2 separate regions of the Homo sapiens genome follow, and region 2 is linked to region 1. The links come from fine-mapping of genetic effects on gene expression. A gene starts in region 1. The other region holds a variant in brackets. All regions are shown on one strand. Distances are from middle to middle.

What was found. PIP is the estimated chance that this variant, and not a neighbour inherited with it, causes the effect.
Region 2: its variant is fine-mapped to the expression of TMCC1 in whole blood (TOPMed, PIP above 0.99).

Annotation. Positions count from the first base shown.
Region 1 is chr3:129,888,782-129,897,889 of GRCh38, reverse strand. TMCC1 (transmembrane and coiled-coil domain family 1) reads left to right here and starts at 4,179. Exons shown (of 7, transcript NM_001017395.5): 1 at 4,179-4,396. TMCC1-DT (TMCC1 divergent transcript) reads right to left here and starts at 4,019. Exons shown (of 3, transcript NR_037893.1): 1 at 3,963-4,019. RefSeq lists a silencer at 3,922-4,651 and enhancers at 4,013-4,804, 4,805-5,597.
Region 2 is chr3:129,915,313-129,924,420 of GRCh38, reverse strand. No RefSeq gene overlaps it. Among named protein-coding and RNA genes, the nearest start is that of TMCC1-DT, 26 kb to the right of the region's middle. The variant A/T (reference allele first, on the strand shown) is at 4,451.

The DNA of each region.
Region 1 (9,108 bases):
TGCTGGGCCTAAGCAGAGACTGAACAGTTAACCGTGGGTCATCAAGTTACCATGTGACCTGAGCTGCTCATCATGAACTAAGTGTTATCTGATCCACCAAGCTATAAAGTTGTGCACTCACAGCAACACTCCATTATCAAATTGAAGTGGTATATATGAGATTGGGCTCAAATGGGCCCTGAAGGCATAGGTAAGTTGCACGAGGAAGTGGCCCAAATATCCATGGCCCCAACTCCTGCTACATTACCTTCTCTCTCCCAGCCTGCACCTATGGCGCCATGGGGCATTCCTTATGACCAGTTGACTGAAGAAGGGAAAACTCAGTTGTGGTTCATAGCCCAGGTTTATGATGGTTCTGCACAATATGCAGGCACCAGTGAAAATAAAACTAGTGTCCCTTTCTGGGACATCCCTGAAGAATAATGGTGAAAAAAAAATCCCCCAGTTGGCAGAACTTTGAAGAGTGTACTTGGTTGTTCATTTTTCCTGAAAGTAGAAACGTCCAGAGGCTCTTCTGACCAAGAGGTCTTAGTTCCAAAAGAAGGAATGCTTCCACCAGGAGACCCAACAACATTTCCATTGAATTGGGAGTTGAGGTGGTCACCTGGCCACCTTGGGTCTTTCATGCCTCTGAATCAACAGGTAAAGTGGGAAGTTCCTCTACTGGCTGAGGTGACTAATCCTGATTACTAAGCAGGAAATTCGGTTGCTACTACAAGATGGAGACGTATTAATGATAGGTAACTTTATATTGCAGTATTAAGTTATAAGACATCAAAGGTGGAGAAGAAACATCACTCAAGGACTTTGCATCCCCTTGGGAAAAGTGTTGTTATGTTTTCAATAGTATGCAGGATAGTTATATCATGTTAAGTGAAAGTATGACTTTGTTATTGTCTTTAAATTTTTTTTTTTTTTGAGACATAGTCTCACTCTGTCACCCAGGCTTGAATGCAATGGCATGATCTTGGCTCACTGCAACCGCCGCCTCCCAAGTTCAAGCGATTCTCCTGCCTCAGCCTCCTGAGTAGCTGGGATTAGAGGCATACGCTGCCACATCCGGCTAATTTTTGTATTTTTAGTAGAGATGGGGTTTCACCATGTTGGCCAAGCTGGTCTCAAACTCCTGACCTCATGATCTGCCCACATTGGCCTCCCAAAGTGCTGGGATTACAGGCGTGAGCCACTGCGCCCAGCCAAAGACTTTTTTTTTTTAAGAGATATGGTCTTGCTGTGGTACCCAGGCCGGAGTACAGTGGTGCGATCATAGGTCACTGCAACCTTGAACTCCTGGGCTCAAGGGATCCTCCTGCCTCAGGCTCCCCAGTAGCTAGGACTACAGGTGTACACTCCCACACTGGCTAATTAAAAAAAATTTTTTTTGTAGAAATGGGGTCTCATTAGGTTGCCCAGGCTGGTCTTGAACTCCTGGGCTGAAGCGATCCTCTTGCCTTGGCCTCCCAAAGTGCTGGGATTACAGGGTCCCTGGTGTGTTATTGTCAGCCTTTAGAGATCAAGTATGGTTAAGGAGATGTGTAGGAGTGTGATTGCTGGGTCATCGGTCTTAATTTTAGCTATCCTAATGAGAGTGTTGTGGTTTTAAATGGAAAAATCCCTAGTTGACTAAAGATGTTGGTAATCTCTTCATTGCTTATAGGCCATTTTTGTATCTTGTGAACTATCTACAAGATATAAAAAAAGCCTTTGCCCATTGGTTTATTGGGCTGGCTTATTACTCATTTATAACAGTTCTTTATGTATTCTGGATACAAGACTTTTGTCTAATGCTTTCTATTGCAAACTCTCCACCTGTGGCTTGCCTTTTCATTTTCTTAATGTTGTCTCTCAAAGAGTACCAGTTTTTAATTTTGATAGAGTTCAACTTATCAATTGCTTTCTTTTTTTTTTTTTTTTTTTTGAGACAGGGTCTCACCCTGTCACTCAGGCTGGAGTGCAGTGGCGCCATCTCAGCTCACTGCAACCTCCGCCTCCCAGGTTCAAGTGATCCTCCTTCCTCAGCCCCACAAGTTAGCTGAGACTGCAGGTACGTGCCAACAAGCCCAGCTAACTTTTGTATTTTTTGTAGAGATAGCATTTTGCCATGTTGCCCAGGCTGGTCTTGAACTCCTGAGCTCAAGTGATCTGCCTGCCTTGGCCTCCCAAAGTGCTGGGATTACAGGTGTGAGCCAGGCCATGAATCACTTTTTATGGTTCATATTTTTTGTGTCCTAAGAAGTCTTTGCCTATCCCAAGGTCACAAATACTTTTTCTATGTTTTCTTCTAAAATTTTCTTTTATAGGTTTAGCTTTTAAATTTAGGTTTATCATCCATTTTGAGTTACCTCAGGTGGCTCCTTCAGTGCTTCTGAAATCTATAAATGCATCCTCCACCAACCTCAAATCTAAGTAAACCTTGCCACCTCCTTCTCCTTCACTCCTCATTCAATTTATTGCCAAGTCCTGTCCATTTTACCACTACATTAGCACTCTTCTCTGTCACTACCCTCCTACTTTGCCTTGACTATGTGGCCAGTGGCCTCCTAACTGGCTTCCCGGCCCCAGCTTTGAGACTCCCATCAGACCACTCTTCACGTTGCTATCTAAGTAACTTAAAAACAGACATAATGGGCTGGGGGCAAGGTGGCTCACACCTGTAATCCCAGCACTTTGGGAGGCCGAGGTGGGTGGATCATGAAGTCAGGAGATTCAGACCATCCTGGCCAACATGGTGAAACCCCGTTTCTACTAAAAATACTAAAAAAATTAGCTGGGTGCAGTGGCGTGCACCTGTAGTCCCAGGTACTAGGGAGGCTGAGGCAGGAAAATCACTTGAACCCGGGAGGCAGAGATTGCAGGGAGCCGAGATCGCGCCACTGCACTCCAGTCTGCCTCTCAAAAACAAAAAACAGACATAATGATCAAGTTATTTCCCCTGCAACCCTGCTGAAAAAAACCTGAATAGCTTCTACCAAGCACTCAGATTAAAGTCCCAAATCCGGCCGGGTGTGGTGGCTCATGCCTGCAATCCCAGCACTTTGGGAGGCCGAGGCGGGCAGATCACAAGGTCAGGAGTTCCAGACCAGCCTGGCCAAGATGGCGAAACCCCATCTCTACTAAAAATACAAAAATTAGCCAGGTGCGCTGGCGTGCGCTGGTAGTCCAGCTACTCCGGAGGCTGAGACAGGAGAATCGCTTGAACCCAGGAGGCGGAGGTTGCAGTGAGCTGAGATCGAGCCATTGCACTCCAGCCTGGGTGACCTGGGTGACAGAGTGAGACTCTGTCTCAATAAATAAATAAATAAATAGGTCCCCAATCCTCACCTGTTCTCGCCTACCTCTTCCCACACTCGCAGTCTACTCCACATTCAATATTCTTTAGCGCTCCCCATTCTGGCCATGCCAAGACCTCACCCCTTGGAGCAACTAACTCCTCCCAACTCAATTCCTCAGATTCTACCCTCTTCATCCTCAACTAAATCAATTCCCCCATAAAGATTCTCTTAGTACCATATACCTCTCAGAAGATTTTTACTAATTGAAAACTTAATTTTGTCTGATTCTCCCATGAATGTTTTCCTTCTCCACCAGATCTCAAACTTCATGAGACCAGGGACTCCGTTGACCCCATATGGTACTCCCAGCTCCTTGAACACGGAAGAAGCCTCATTACATAAGTAATAAAAATAAAATAAATTAGGAAAATGGGAATTATAAAGGGATGGGCTGGTGGCTGCTTACAATCCCTTCAGTGGTAATACCTGGTGCAAAGTAATGAGTCTCTGCCCTTTTCCAAGCAGCCTGCTAGGTGGAATGAAGGAAGGCCTTGCGACTCAAATAGGGAGAACAAACGTGTGATCCAGAGCGGCGGGCAGAAATCCGACGAAACCCCATATTACTCAGGGGCGTTGCTCCTAGGGCGAGGGTGGCTCGGTTCCTAGAGCTTTTTGAGAGGAGGAGCTTACCTGGAGCAACTCAGCACTACCTGCAGCGGCGCAGCTCAACCAGCCCAGAGACCGCGTGGGAAGGCGGGCTAGGGGAGGGGCCACGCCTTCCAGGGCCCATCCCCGCCCCTGCGGCGTGCGCGCGCCCGTCCGCCCGCTCCCTTGCGCGTGCGCCGCCGGCCGGGGGCGGAGGTTGTGGGCGGTGGCGGCTGTGGCGGGGGCGCGCGCGCGCTCGCTCTCTCGCGCCGGTTCGCCCTCCCGCGCCGGGGCTGAGGCGGCGGCGGCGGTGGCGGTGACTGAGGCGGCGGCGGCTGAGGCGGCGCGGGGGGAGGGTCGGGAGGGGGGGGTGGTTGTGGGGGATGGACCGGGTGCGGCGGCCGCAGTGGAAGGAGCAGGCGCTTGAGCTCGAGCGACGGCGCTGGCGGAGACGCCGGCTGCTCCTCCCCTCCCCGCCGGTGAGTGAGCGCCCCCGCCCCGGACGCTGGCGGCGGTCGCGGCCCCCTCACGGCCCTCCGCGGTGGGTGGGGACAGTCGTGAGGGAGCGTGGCCTGGCGGCGCAGCGGACGCGGGCCTGGCCTCCCGCTCGCGGCCTGTCGGGGCTGGGACCTGCCGTCGCCCCCGTTCGAGGTTGAAGCCCCGGGCCTAGGACTCGACCCCCAGCATCCCACGGGGCCTCTTTCCTTTCCCGGCTCATTCCGCTGTCATTTTGACCTGGGGTTCCCCTCCAGCCCCTCGCCTCGTTCCCTTCCCAGCATCCCAGGGCCGAGGTGAGGGAGGGGCGTGTGAGAAGTCGGGCCGAGGCCCGAGGGACTGTTTAGGAGCCGGTTCCCGTCGGAATCTGGGGTTTTAGGAGCCCTCGATCGCCATGGCGTCCCAGAAGTTAGCCACCAGGACTCAGCCATTTCCACCTGAAACCAGTTTTGCACCTATTGTTTTGATTTTGAACTGTCTTTCGAGGGGAGGAGGGAGCCCGGCGTACTGGGGAGAATATGTAGTGGGAGGTGGGATGTGAGGAGGAGCTGGCTGGGCTTGGTCTCGGCCTCAGGATGCCCCCTGTTAACCCCTGTAGGATAGGGGAAAGAGGTGCAGCGAGTTGCACCTTCCCTAAAGGGCCAGAGATTCGTTTATAGCTTGCGAATCTCTGCTTTTTCAGCCTCGGTAAAGGGGTATCATTTGTGGTTGGTTTGGTTCGTCCCTTAACAACATTCTTGGTGAGGAATCCCCAGGTGAATCTGCCACGGAGTGAAGCAGCCCACTTGAGCTGTTGGCTACCCCCGGCCCCCGCAACGCCCGTTGGCTTTTGTGACACGTTACACGTTAGTGTTGGTAGAGCCTAGCCGTCAGAGGTACCTGTACCATAAGCATCTCTACGAAAGGTGTGAATTCCTAAATTAGCTTATTCTGTTCTTAAAAAAAAAAAATCCAGGGCATAAATATCAGATAGCTGCTTTAAAATAAAACAAAACTTTGATTTGTTCCAGGAGGTAGATACATTTTTTTCTCTGTATATTAGGAGATTGAAACTCAAATTGTGAGTAGGTGGTAGTTTTACTAGTGTCATGTGACAAAACGATGCTTATAGATGGGATTTTAACTTAATAACCCTGTCCTCTACCAACAGAGTTGGCTTGTATTTTTTTGCAATCACCCACTCTCTGGCTAGTGTAGAAAGATTAAAAAGCTGCTTCTGGTCTGTGGGTGGTAACCTTTTAATTTCTGAAGAGTTTTGAGCTGCTTATAGATTGCTGATCAGCAGCATAGGAAAATTTTAGACGTTAAAAATTCATTAGCATGTGATGTAGAACTGTTATAATTATGAGCATTGATTAAGATTTGGTATGGTGTAGGTGCTGTGTACTGTGTATAAGAATGAGATTTCTCAGAGCATTTGCATCTTAAGATAAACAGAAGCACAGACCGCTGACAGTGTTGGGACACCTTGCAGAAGGACTCTTTTATGAGCACAAAAGACCTGTAGTCTACAATTTGATGAAGAACCCCAGTGCCCTAGACTAGTTGGTGACCAACCACCATTACTTTAAACTGGGCCTTCTTGATAGTAGAATATTTCCCCTTTTCTGCAAGACTGCTTATGCCTCTCATAAATGTGCAGAACATATAATGGCTCAGGGCTTAGGTTTAAGCTCCTCAGAGTGGCATTTATGGATCATTCATTAATTCATCAAATGTTTATTGAGCCCTTACTTTGTTCCAGGATGTTTTCTAAGTACTGGGCTACATTGTTGGGACAAAACAGACAAGGCCTCTTCCCTAATTAAGCTTTATTCTGTATGTATGGGAATGAGGAATATACAACAAACAAGCAAATAGGATCATTTCAGATAATGATATAAATCAGTGGTTAGTAAGCTTTTTTTGGTAAAGGACCAGGAAGTACAGTACATACCAGGGTTTTTGGGCCATATGATCTCTTTTGCAACTACTCAATTCTGTTTTAGTACAAAAGCAGCCACAGACAGTACGTGAACAAATATGTTTATATTCCAGTTAAACTTGGGACACTGAAATTTGAATTTCATAAAATTTTCACATGTCACAGAATATTAATGAGTTTTTAAAAATATTTTCCCCTAGCCATTTAAAAATGTAAAACCATTCTTAGCCATATAAAACGGGGCAAGGTGGATTTGGCCTATAGATTATAGTCTGGCCTTTTATAGAAAATGTTTGCTGACCCCTAATATGAATTATGAAGAAAATAAAACAAGCTGATGTGACAAGTGAATGACTGAAAGGTGGGTGGAGGGTTACTTAGTGAGAGGAGGCCTCATTAAGGAGAAGGTATTTGAGTTGTGACCTGAAAAATGGTAGCGCTTTCCTGGTAAATGAAACAGTGAGTGCAAAGGTCTGCAGGTGCAGATGAGCTGCTCTTGTTTTCCAGTGTTGAACTTCCCCACATAACATGTCATTCTTACATTTTATGTAAATACATTTTATGTCTTTGTTAGAATGTTGTTCTTCATGTAATAGGATGGTACCTTTCCGTTTCCTCTTCCTGATCCTGCCTTACAGTACCCATGGAGTAAGACTGCAGTGGAGTTGCACCTCATCCCAGGGTTAGGTCCTCAAGTTAGTGCATGAGGCAAAAATCATGTAAGATGAAAACTCTTCTGGAAAATTCCATAAATTGCTCAAAAAGTATGGTCTGCATGTTTTTGTATGTATAGTTGTATAAAATTCTTACGAATATGAAAGGCTGAGAGCCACAGAGCTTGACTGAGGGAAAGAGCAAGAGGAAATAAATTGTTATATAGGTATCTGGGCCTTCAGACTGTTTGGCTTTTTAAAACTGCTCTGGAGTCCCTATCAGAGAGTGGGGGATGGTATAGAATTTTGACATGTTCCTGTTTCCATGCAGGGTTTAATTCTATTTTTATGTTAAGCCTCTATTACATTAATACATGCTCATAGATGTGTTGCGAATATTAAACAAGATAATGTATTTGAAAGAGCCCGGCACTTAAGATAGTCAGTAAACATTTGCAGAATTAGAATCTGATTTTTACTTCTTTGGGCTCACATACATACTGTCCTTTGAAAAGTTGTAGAGAACTTAGCCACCTGCTTCCTGTCTATCCATATTGGCATTTCCTGTTGTGGCTCCACTGAACAGCTGTCACTCTCTTTGTCCTTGAGCATTGGTCACATTTTGCCAGAGGTTGGCTTGTAAGTTAAATGGGTATAGGTGTAACTCTGTTAGTTCTGCCACATGACCCTTAAAGTGTTTGAGCACTGCTATTATGTCTCCTATTTAAGTCTTCACTTTTCAGAGCTGAATGTTTTTATTTTTCTTTTTTTTAAAGATATTATGGAGAGAGATGGGGTCTCATATGTTGCCTAGGCAAACTCCTGGCCTCAAGTGATCCCCCTTGCCTTGGCCTCCAAAAGTGCTGGGTTTATAAGCATGAGCCACCATGCCCCAGCCATTTTAATTTCTGTTAGCTTTTTCTTATTTCTTCACCCTTCTGGTTGTTGTGAGCTTAGTTTATTCTTTTTTTTTTTTTTTAACTTTGCTACTCTGAAGTATATTTTAAGGTACAAATTCAAGTTTTATCTCCTTGACCAAATCTTTCCTGATAATTCTAGACCTTCTTTATATTCTTAATATAGTTTTATCTTTACTCTTCAATTTAATTTTTTCTTATTTTTGTATTTTATACTAGTTTCATGAGCATTTGTCTTCACTCTGCGACAACAAGCTTCTTGAAGGCAAAGACCATATTTTAAGTATCTTTTGTGTCCTAGATGCACTGAGTAAAATTCCAGGGATGCCGTTGATCATAAATTTGTTATAATTTTTAAAAATAGACTTTAAAATTTAGATTTACAGAAACATTGCAAAGATACTGCAGAGTTCCTGCCTATCCTACACTGTTTCCCATATTATTAACGTCTTACATCCCTGTGATCATTTGTCTGTATTAATAAACCAGTATTGATACATTATCACAGAGACCATACTTTATCAGGTTTCCACAGGTTTTTTCCTTAATGTTCTTTCACTATCCCAGGATCCCATCCACAATACCACATTACATTTAGTAATTATGTCTCCTTAGCTCCTCTTGGTTGTGACAATTTCTCAGACTTTCCCTGTATTTAGTGACCTTGGCAGTTTTGAACATTACTGGTCAGGTTTTGTTTGTTTGTTTTTTTGAGACAGGATCTCCCTCTGTCACCAAGACTGGAGTGCAGTGGAACGATCTCATCTCACTGCAGCCTCAACACTCTGGGGTCAAGTGATCCTCTGACCTCAATGTCCGGAGTAGCTGGGCCCAGAGATGTGTGCCATCATGCTCTGCTAATTTTTGTACTTTTTGTAGAGATGGGGTTTCACCATGGTGCCCAGGCTGGTCTCGAACTCCTAGAACCAAGCAATCCACCCTCCTCAGCTTCCTAAAGTGCTGGGATTACAGGCGTGAGTCACTGTGTCCAGCCGTGGTCAGGTATTTTTATAGAACGTTCTTTGGGATTTATCTGATGTTTTCATTGTGGTTAGGCCAAGAATGTAATATGCTTTTGGAAGGAAGACCACAGGGCTAAAGTGTCATTCTCATCACATATTAGGGATGTATACTACCAGTATGACTTATCAGTGTTGATGTTAACCCTGCTCATCTGGCTTGAGGCAGAGTTTGTTTTCTGC
Region 2 (9,108 bases), 27 kb before region 1:
GCACTCCAGCCTGGGTGACAGAGCAAGACTCTGTCTTTAAAAAAAAAAAAAAAAAAGCATTTTTCTAAACTCAAATATCTAATAAATCATAATGAAAATTAGATAATACTAATAAATGATTAAAAGTATGCAAATTAAAAATTGTGAGATGCCACACAAAGCATCGAGAGCAATCTGTAGCTTTATTTACATTAGAAAAGCAGAAAAGATGAAAATGAAGCTAATACCCAGCATATGTTAGAAAATATAATGAGAATAAACTCAAATAACATAAATGGAAGGATAAACAGGTAAATGAATGAAACAGAAAATAAAGATAATGATAGAGAGAAGTAACAGAGCTAACAGTTGGTTCTTTGAGAAAAGTATCATATACAAATCTTCAATGAGACTAAGAAAAAAATCATAAAAACTCATATTTGAAATTAACAGGAAGACATAACTATAGAGGTAGAAAATATTTTAAAAGATAATAGTGCATATTGTGAAAAACTGATGCCAATATATTTGAAAATGTGTACCAAGTAGACAATACCCTAAAAATATAACTTTAAGAAATTGATTTATGAGGAAATGGAAATCCTAAGTAGCTCAATAGCTACTATATAAATTTGATCAATAGTTAAGAAGTGCCTCTGTGCCTCTGTCTCTCTGTGTCTCTGACACACATACACACACGCACACACACAAACACACACACACACACACACACACGGCCCTAATGGTATTATTGACTAAATGCCAAACTCATTCTAATTTTTAAGAAATACTCCCATAAAATTGACATAAGGGGCTACTTTGACATAAGGGGCTGTTTTCCAATAAATTCTATGAGAACACTAGGATCTTAATACCAAAACCAAACAAATATTAGGAATAATAAAAATTATAAGCCAGTCTTACACAGGAACACTGATATAAACAATCCTAAGGAATAGCAAGCATTGACCATGCCTCCAAATTGAAGAATTAATACAAACATAACAATTTAGCTCAAGTGCTAAAACAGACCTACTATTTAAAAGTACTGAGTATACACAGAGCCATGGGAGTTGCTGTTGGAGAAATCTTCATGAAGGAAGGAAGGCTGAAACAGTTTTAAAATCCTAGGTTTCTCTCTTTTTTCTTTTTTTGTCTTGGAGAATAGGTACAAATAGGAGTAAAAACAGGAAGCTTGGGGAAGTAAATAAACCTGCATGGATGGATTGTGGGTGCACTGGGGAGAACAGTAACAAATAAGGTTGGGGGGGAAATTGGAGATAAATGCATCATCACAATCAAGAATGATTTGCTGGCGGGGTGCAGTGGCTCACACCTCTAATCCCAGCACTTTGGGAGGCCCAGGCAGGCGGATCACCTGAGGTCAGGAGTTCGAGACCAGCCTGGCCAACATGGCGAAACCCTGTCTCTACTAAAAATACAAAAATTAGCTGGGCGTGGTGGGGTAAACCTGTAATCGCAGCTACTTGGGAGGCTGAGGCAGGAGAATTGCTTGAACCTGAGAGGTGGAGATTGCAGTGAGCCAAGATCGCACCACTGCACTCTATCCTGGGCGACAGAGCAAGACTCCATCTCAAAAAAAAAAAAAAAAAGAATGATTTGCTGAACACTTAGTATATAACTGGGAACAGTGAAGTTATGGAATTGATTGTCAGCTCAGTAGACGGCACTCAAATCCATTAATTGGGGGACAGACCGATGGGCAGGCAGGTGAACGGATACATTTGACAGGAAACAAGTAGAACTGGCTTTTGAGAAGACACATTTTAAAGTTTCATTTGGCCATAAATTGAATTGCTTTTCAAAAGCTGCACTTAGTGACACTGAAAAATCAGGAAACCAAGCTAGACAGAGTTCCCACGTGAAAACCCGATGTAAAGCATCTGTTACCTACTTGCATGGTATCACTGGAAGTCAGAAGCAGAGCTCTTTTGTGATGTTTAAAACCTGCACGATATCCAGTGCACTATTATTTGTGTATCTATTTGTCTGATGATGGAAATTTGGTTTGTCCCTACTTTCCTTTTTTTTTTTTTCTTGAGATGGAGTCTCGCTCTGTCGCCCTGGCTGGAGTTTAGTGGCGCGATCTCGGCTCACTGCAAGCTCCACCTCTGCGCCAGGCCGGTTTGTCCCTACTTTGTATTCTATTAGAAACATTGCTACAGGCTGAGCGCAGTGGCTCACGCTTGTAATCCCAGCACTTTGGGAGGCCAAGGCGGGTGGATCACTTGAGGTCAGGAGTTCGAGACCAGCCTGGCCAATATGGCGAAACTCCATTTCTACAAAAAATACAAAAAATTAGCCGGGCATTGTGGTGGGTGCATGTAATCCCAGCTACTCGGGAGGCTGAGGCAGGAGAATGGCTTGAACCTGGGAGGCAGAGATTGCAGTGAGCCAAGATCCGGCCATTGCACTCCAGCCTGGGTGACAAGAGTGAAACTCCATCTCAAAAAAAAAAAAAAAAAGAGGAACATTGCTATATAGACAATCTGTGCTTATATTTCCTCTAATTGTGCAAGTATTTTACATAACAAACTACTAGAAATGGAGATTCATGAAATATGAAATTTTTATACTAGATAGATACTGCCCAATTCCCTCTGAGAAATTACGCTAATCCATATGCTCACGAAGAGTTTTGGGGAGTGGGTATTACCCCACAGGCTTACATCCTCACTGATGCTGGAAATTATTCATGAAGTTTGAGTACCCCTTATCTATAAAATGATTGACACCATAAGTGTTTTGAATTTTTTTTTTTTTGGAATATTCGTATTATATATAATTACCAGTTGAGCATCCCAAATCTAAATATACAAAATCCCAAATGCTCAAATAGAGCATTTCCTCTGAGTGTTATGTAGGTGCTCAAAAAGTTTTAAATTTTGGCACATTTTGGATTTCACACTTCTCAGATTTAGGATGCTAACCTGTATTTAACATGTATGCCAATCTGAAAGAACCTGTCTCAGCTCACTGCAGCCTCCACCTCCAGGGCTCAAGTGATCCTCCTGTCTCACAGCCTTCTGAGTAGCCAGGACTACAGGCGTGCACCACCACACCCAGCTAATTTTTTGTATTTTTAGTAGAGGCGGGTTTTGCCATGTTACCCAGGCTGATCTTGGACTCTTGGCTCAAGCAATCCTCCTGCCTCGGCCTCCGAGAGCGCTGGGATTACAGGCGTGAGCCACTGCACCCAGCCGTCTTCTCCTTGTTCTGCCATCAGCAGCCACATCCTGTGACTCCCCAGCCCACTCAGCTTCCCTTGTTTTCCATCACATGCAGAATAAAACCCAAAAGCTGGCCCCCAGCCGCTCTCCTAACCTTGTTTCTTATTGCTCTCCCGCTGGCTCCTCCTAGACCAACCTCACTCCTTGCTGACCTGAAACACACCCTGCACTTGGCTGTGGGACGAAAGTGGCCCTCACTGTTCCCAGAGCGCGCCACGGGGCTAACTCCCACGCTTCCTGCAGGGCTCTGCTCCAACACCACCTCCCCAGGAGGACTCATCCAGCACCCGTATGAAGCACCCATTCCGTGAAACACGCTAAATATTTTTATTTTATTATTATTTTTTTTGAGACAGGGTCTCACTCTGTTGTCCAGGCTGGAATGCAGTGGCACTATCTCAGCTCACTGAAACCACCACCTCATGGGTTGAAGCCATTCTCCTGCCTCAGCCTCCCGAGTAGCTGGGACTACAGGCGCATGCTGCTACGCCCAGCTAATTATTTGTATTTTAGTAGAGACGAGGTTTCACCATGTTGCCCAGGCTGGTCTCGAACTCCTGAGCTTAGGCAATCCACCCGTCTCAGCCTCCCAAAATGCTAGGATTACAGATGTGAGCCACCACGCCTGGCTGAAACACACTAAATATTTTCAATCATTTCTGTTTTTAATTTTTCTGGCAGTTATTCAAAACTCTAAATGTGAGTAAGCCCCCTACTTCTAGATTTGTAATTTCATAAAAGTTGAGCAATTAGCTCACTTGTACCATGCCCTGGCTACACTCATTGTAACTGTTTCTCATCTCCTGTAGCAAACTTCATTTAGAGGTCACCTTTATAACTCTGTACCTGTCTTCTCAGCTCTATTTCGGGAGCTATCACGGGGAAATGACATCTGCGTACCACTCCTAAGTCCCATAGCCTCTGACAGCTGTATCCGACAAGATCGGGTGCGTTCAGGCTGGTATGAGCGAAGACCCCGCTGATAACTTTACATGGCCTTTTCCCACCTATTGTCCAAATTCTGTCAACTCTAGCTTGTTTAAATGGTTTTATTTTTATATTTTCTGTAAATACAATTAAGCTTTTCATGCTTTGTGTGCTGATTCAGAAAAGTAAAATAAATAAGAAAAGTAAAATAAATAACTAGCATTTAGGTTAATATGATTACGTAACTTTCCCCCTATGGATCCAAGACATAAAACTGGACACAATGACTCCAT[A/T]CCAGCCCTGCATCAAACTGTTTCCTGTGAAAATGGGTTTTTAGATTTATCATCCATTATATGTTTAAAGTCATGCCTCATCTTAATTGGTCTCATGTTTGGTCTGACTTTCTAGCACAGATCTATTGTACTAGAATATGTAATTGGCTTACTTACATTTTTGACATAACAAGCATATGGATTCCCCCTCATTACTAAGAGTCCTAATTGTAGCCTCTTAGCTTAATTATAACCTGTTTAATACTAAATTCACTTTCTCTGTGAAATCTCTCTTCGTGGCGCTCCCCTTGAATTCTTGTTCTAAGAGAGAGGGAGAGAGAGAAAGAGAAGGAGAGAGAGAGAGAGAGAGAGAAGGAAGGAAGGAGAGAAGGGAGGGAGGGAGGAAGAAAGGAAAGAAAGAAGGAAAGAGAAAGATCAGCTTCTTTTCTGCCTTTCCTCCTTACCCCCTTTCCCTTTTCCTTACCTTCCTTTCCTTCTTTTTCCTTTTCCTTTCTTTTATTTTCTTTCTCTCTCTCTGTTTCTTTCCCTCCCTCCCTCCCACCCTCCGTCCCTCCCTCCTTCCCTCCTTTCCCTCCCTCCCTCTCTCTCTTTCTCTCTTTCTTTCTTTCTTTCTTTTTTTCTTTCTTCTTTCTTCAGTATTCACACCTGGGGGACCCTTAACCCCAAAGTGGATTTTATGGACAACAGCACACTGGGGAGACAAGGAGCCCCACAGCACTCCCACCCTCTCCCCAGGTCACTTCTTGCTTCCTGGTCCTGCTCTTTATTGGGGAAGGAGAATCGTATTTGACCAGTGGAACTCCAGGACAGTCCCTGGCCACCATCAGTAGTGGGCAGGGTCACAGCATGTTCTAGGCTGTGCACACTGAGCCACCGGCCATGCACAAGGGCAGGGCCTTCTGGACCTCCCTCAAACTTCTTAATAACACATGAGGAAGCTCCCTGATGGGAGCCACTCTGACCCCATGCCACTCTAACCCCAGCACAGTCTGGTTCCCAGGACTTCAGGATCCTCCTGGAGACCTCTCAGCATGATTAACACAGTCAGACGAGACCTGAAGGGGCCGCTGGTCCTTCTGAAAATGCTCACTGGGCAGTGTGAGTGTGGGGAGGCCATGCACAATGTGTGGGACTCTGCCTTGCACCTGCTCAGAGCCTCAGCCCTTCAGAGCCACTGGTAATGATTTTCTGTGGGTGGGGTCATCCTGATACTTCTCTGAGGTCTCTTTTCCTTTCAGTTTTTCTGAGTAACTGAGAGGATCACATGACTGCATACTGCCTAAACTAGGGTGTGCACAGCCCCCATTCTGTGCAGGGAGGGCGCAAAGCAGCAGATTGCCTGTGACTCATCTGCCACCTTTCCAATGCTACTACAAAATTTGCAAGAAACGGTAGTGTTATCAGGAATCACCTTTATTTAAAAAGATAAAGCAGGATTGCTGGGCACACGGAAGCGTGAGCATATCGCCCGGCTTCTCTCCACAGCTGTCGCCCGGCTTCTCTCCACAGCTGTTGGCGTCCACTGTCAGGTTTCCATGTTCTTGGACCTCAGGGCCTTCATCCTCTCCAATCTAAATGCAGAGAGACATTTGATACGGACTCTCTCAGTTGTTTTGCAAAATGCAACACACTCTCATTGACTCTGGTCACCCTGCTGTGCGCTAGATGTCAAAACCTCTTCCTCCTGTCCGGACTTTGGTCCTTTAACCGACAACCCTGATGGTCTGCAGGTCAGTGCTGGGTGGGGGATGAAGCAAGGCTTTCTGGAGGCCAGTGTGCTGAGCCCTGCAGTGTGAGGAGAGGTCGCCTAAGTAAGTAGGGACAAGGGCAGGAGGGTAGCCTCTGCAAAAGCTCAGGGATGACCGAGGGTGTCTTGCTGGAGTGATGTGCTAGTCTGAAGGTAGGACTGGGGCCAGGTTGGGAGAGCTCGAGTCCCAGGACAGAAGCTGAGCCTGTATTCTGAGGGCCGTGGGCACTGTGGAATAGTTCTGAGCCCCCTTGCTGGGCCACAGCCTTCAAACCCTGACTCTGCTCCTGACGTGGGAGTGGGCTCAACTGAACTTTACCACCACACCAGCCTCACTGCCTCCAGTCTCCCCCACCCACACCCCTCCATTCAGGCTCCCAAAGGGATCCAAGGGAAAGCCACCTCTGGGCTCCACCACCCAGCTGGTGGCCCTGAGAGCTTCAGAGGGAAGCCCTTCTCCTTGTCCACCAGGGCTCACCTGGGCAGCCCCACAGCCCTGCCTTTCAGACCACCCCATGTGCCCAGGTGGGTCACGTGATTCTTGAAAACAAAATGCTTGTTCCTTGGTGCCACAAGGAAAAATTAGCATTCAGACAAAAAGTTTTCTCAGCAAGGCAATTTTACTTTCTGCAGAAAGGATGCTGCCCATCAGCAATTTTGCCACAAGAGCACGATGAATAAAGAAAGGCAGGAATATTTATCCCTTACACACTGGGTCCTTACTGCTGTGTCCTCTCTTCGTTGCTTGGAGACGGACCTCACAATCTAAGCTAAACTCAATTGGCTAACAACTTAAAACTTTCCTAAATAGGTAAAGGCAATGGAGAACAAAAGGAAAAGAGGAAGTTGCTTGCAAAAGGTCTTAGAAAAGTAATAACATTTCCAAATAAGGAAGGAAGAGGAAGTTAGTCTTTAAAAGAAACTATTACTTTTAACATTTATTATTTATTCTTTAACAAGAAGGGAAACTTTGAAGAGGAACTTTTTATTTTCCACACCGTCATGTTTCCTACACACCGTCCCCACTGCCTAGAGTTCCCCCCTTACTCTCCTGCACTGAGTGACTTCCTGTCCCTTCAGTCCTAGCTGAGATATCCGGTACTCTGGGGAGCATCCCTGAGCCCTGGACACAGAGGAGCCCCTTCTGCCCTGGATCCCAGAACCACTTGTGCTTTCCTCCTATCACAGTGCAGAAACTCCCACCACACACACACACAAACACAAACAGACACACACACACACACACACACACACACACACACAGACACCGGCACACATATTCACACACACTTGCCACCATTTGGGGACATTGATTACTGCCTGCTGGACCACCCCTCTCCCACCCCAGCCTCTCAGGGAGCCCCAGGCAGAGGTGCTGCTATTAATAGTAGGGGCCCTGTAGGTGCATTGGAGGTAGGGAAGGGAAGGGCTCCCCAGGAATACCCCTGCCTGGATGACAGCCACCCCATGGGGGGCACGGCCACCAGGAAACTTAGGTCTTGAATAAGCGGAGGCAGCAGGTACAGGCTGGAAGGATAAGGTGGGGCCAGATTCCCAGGGTCCCTAAATGCCAGGATGAGGTGCTTCTATTGTCTCCTGGGGTGCAAGCTTTGGAAGAGGCGGGGCCCATGGGGGCAGCACTGGGGAGGCCGGCCTGGAGGGACATGGCCACTGAAGGGGTGCACCTGTCCCTGTCCCTGATGGCTCAGCCCTCACTGGCACCAGGAATCCCTTGGTGGGGAATGGGGGGTGTCATGGCCTCCTGCCTGGTGCCTGAATACCCCGACATGTTCCACCCAGGATCCTGCACTTCTTCCTTCTTTTGTTTTTTTTTTTGTTGTTGTTGTTGTTTTCAAGACAGAGTCTCACTCTGTCATGCAGGCTGGAGTGCAATGGTGTGATCTTGGCTCACTGCAACTTCCACTTCCTGGGGCCAAGCTATTCTCCTGCCTCAGACTCCTGAGTAGCTGGAATTACAGGCGTGCACCACCACGCCCAGCTCATTTTTTGTATTTTTAGTAGAGATGGGGTTTCACCATGTTGGCCAGGCTGGTCTCGAACTTTTGACTTCAAGTCATCTGCCTGCCTCAGCCTCCCAAAGTGCTGGGATTACAGGCGTGAGCCACCGCACCCGGCCTGTACTTCCTCCCTCTGCCCTAATGTCCCCCAATGATTGCTGAGTCACTCAGGCTTCCTCCCCTTGAAGTCTCTGCTCCCCTCAAGCTGCTCCCCCTTGCAGACTCCCCCCTTGTTTTTGTCACCCACACTGCACACCTTCTTGTCATTGACTCACCCTTGCTTTCCTTTTTTTTTTTTTTTTTTTTTTGTGAGACAGGATCTTGCTCTGTCACCCAGGCTGGAATGCAGTGGCACGATCATAGCTAACTGCAGCTTCAACCTCCCAGGCTCCAGTGATTCTCCCACCTCAGCCTCCTGAGAAGCTGGGACTACAGGCTCATGCCACCACACCTGGCTAATGTTTTGTATTTTTTATAGAGACAGGGTTTTGCCATGTTGCCCAGGCTGGTCTTAAACCCGTGGGCTCAAGTGATCCTCCCGTCTTGGCCTCCCAAAGTGCTGGGATTCCAGGCGGGAACCACCTACTGACTGTCTTCACATAGGCCATCACCAAATTAACTTCCTCTGGGGCAGGACAGGTGTGAAGTCGGTGAGGGGAAGCAGCAGGGTGTGAGGAACACAGATGGAAGTGCTGTGCTAAACGGACCTGGCCCCTAGGTGCAGTGTCGGGGAGTAACAGGGCATGGTGGAGACTGTGGCAAACGAGTGCACGGGCCAGGTCTAAGGGCAGCCACCATGCACCTCTAGCTGATTTCTGTTGTTGTTTTTAACACACACGTGTGCGCGTGTGTGCGCTCTGTCCCAGGTTTGAGCAACCACTGATCTACTTTGT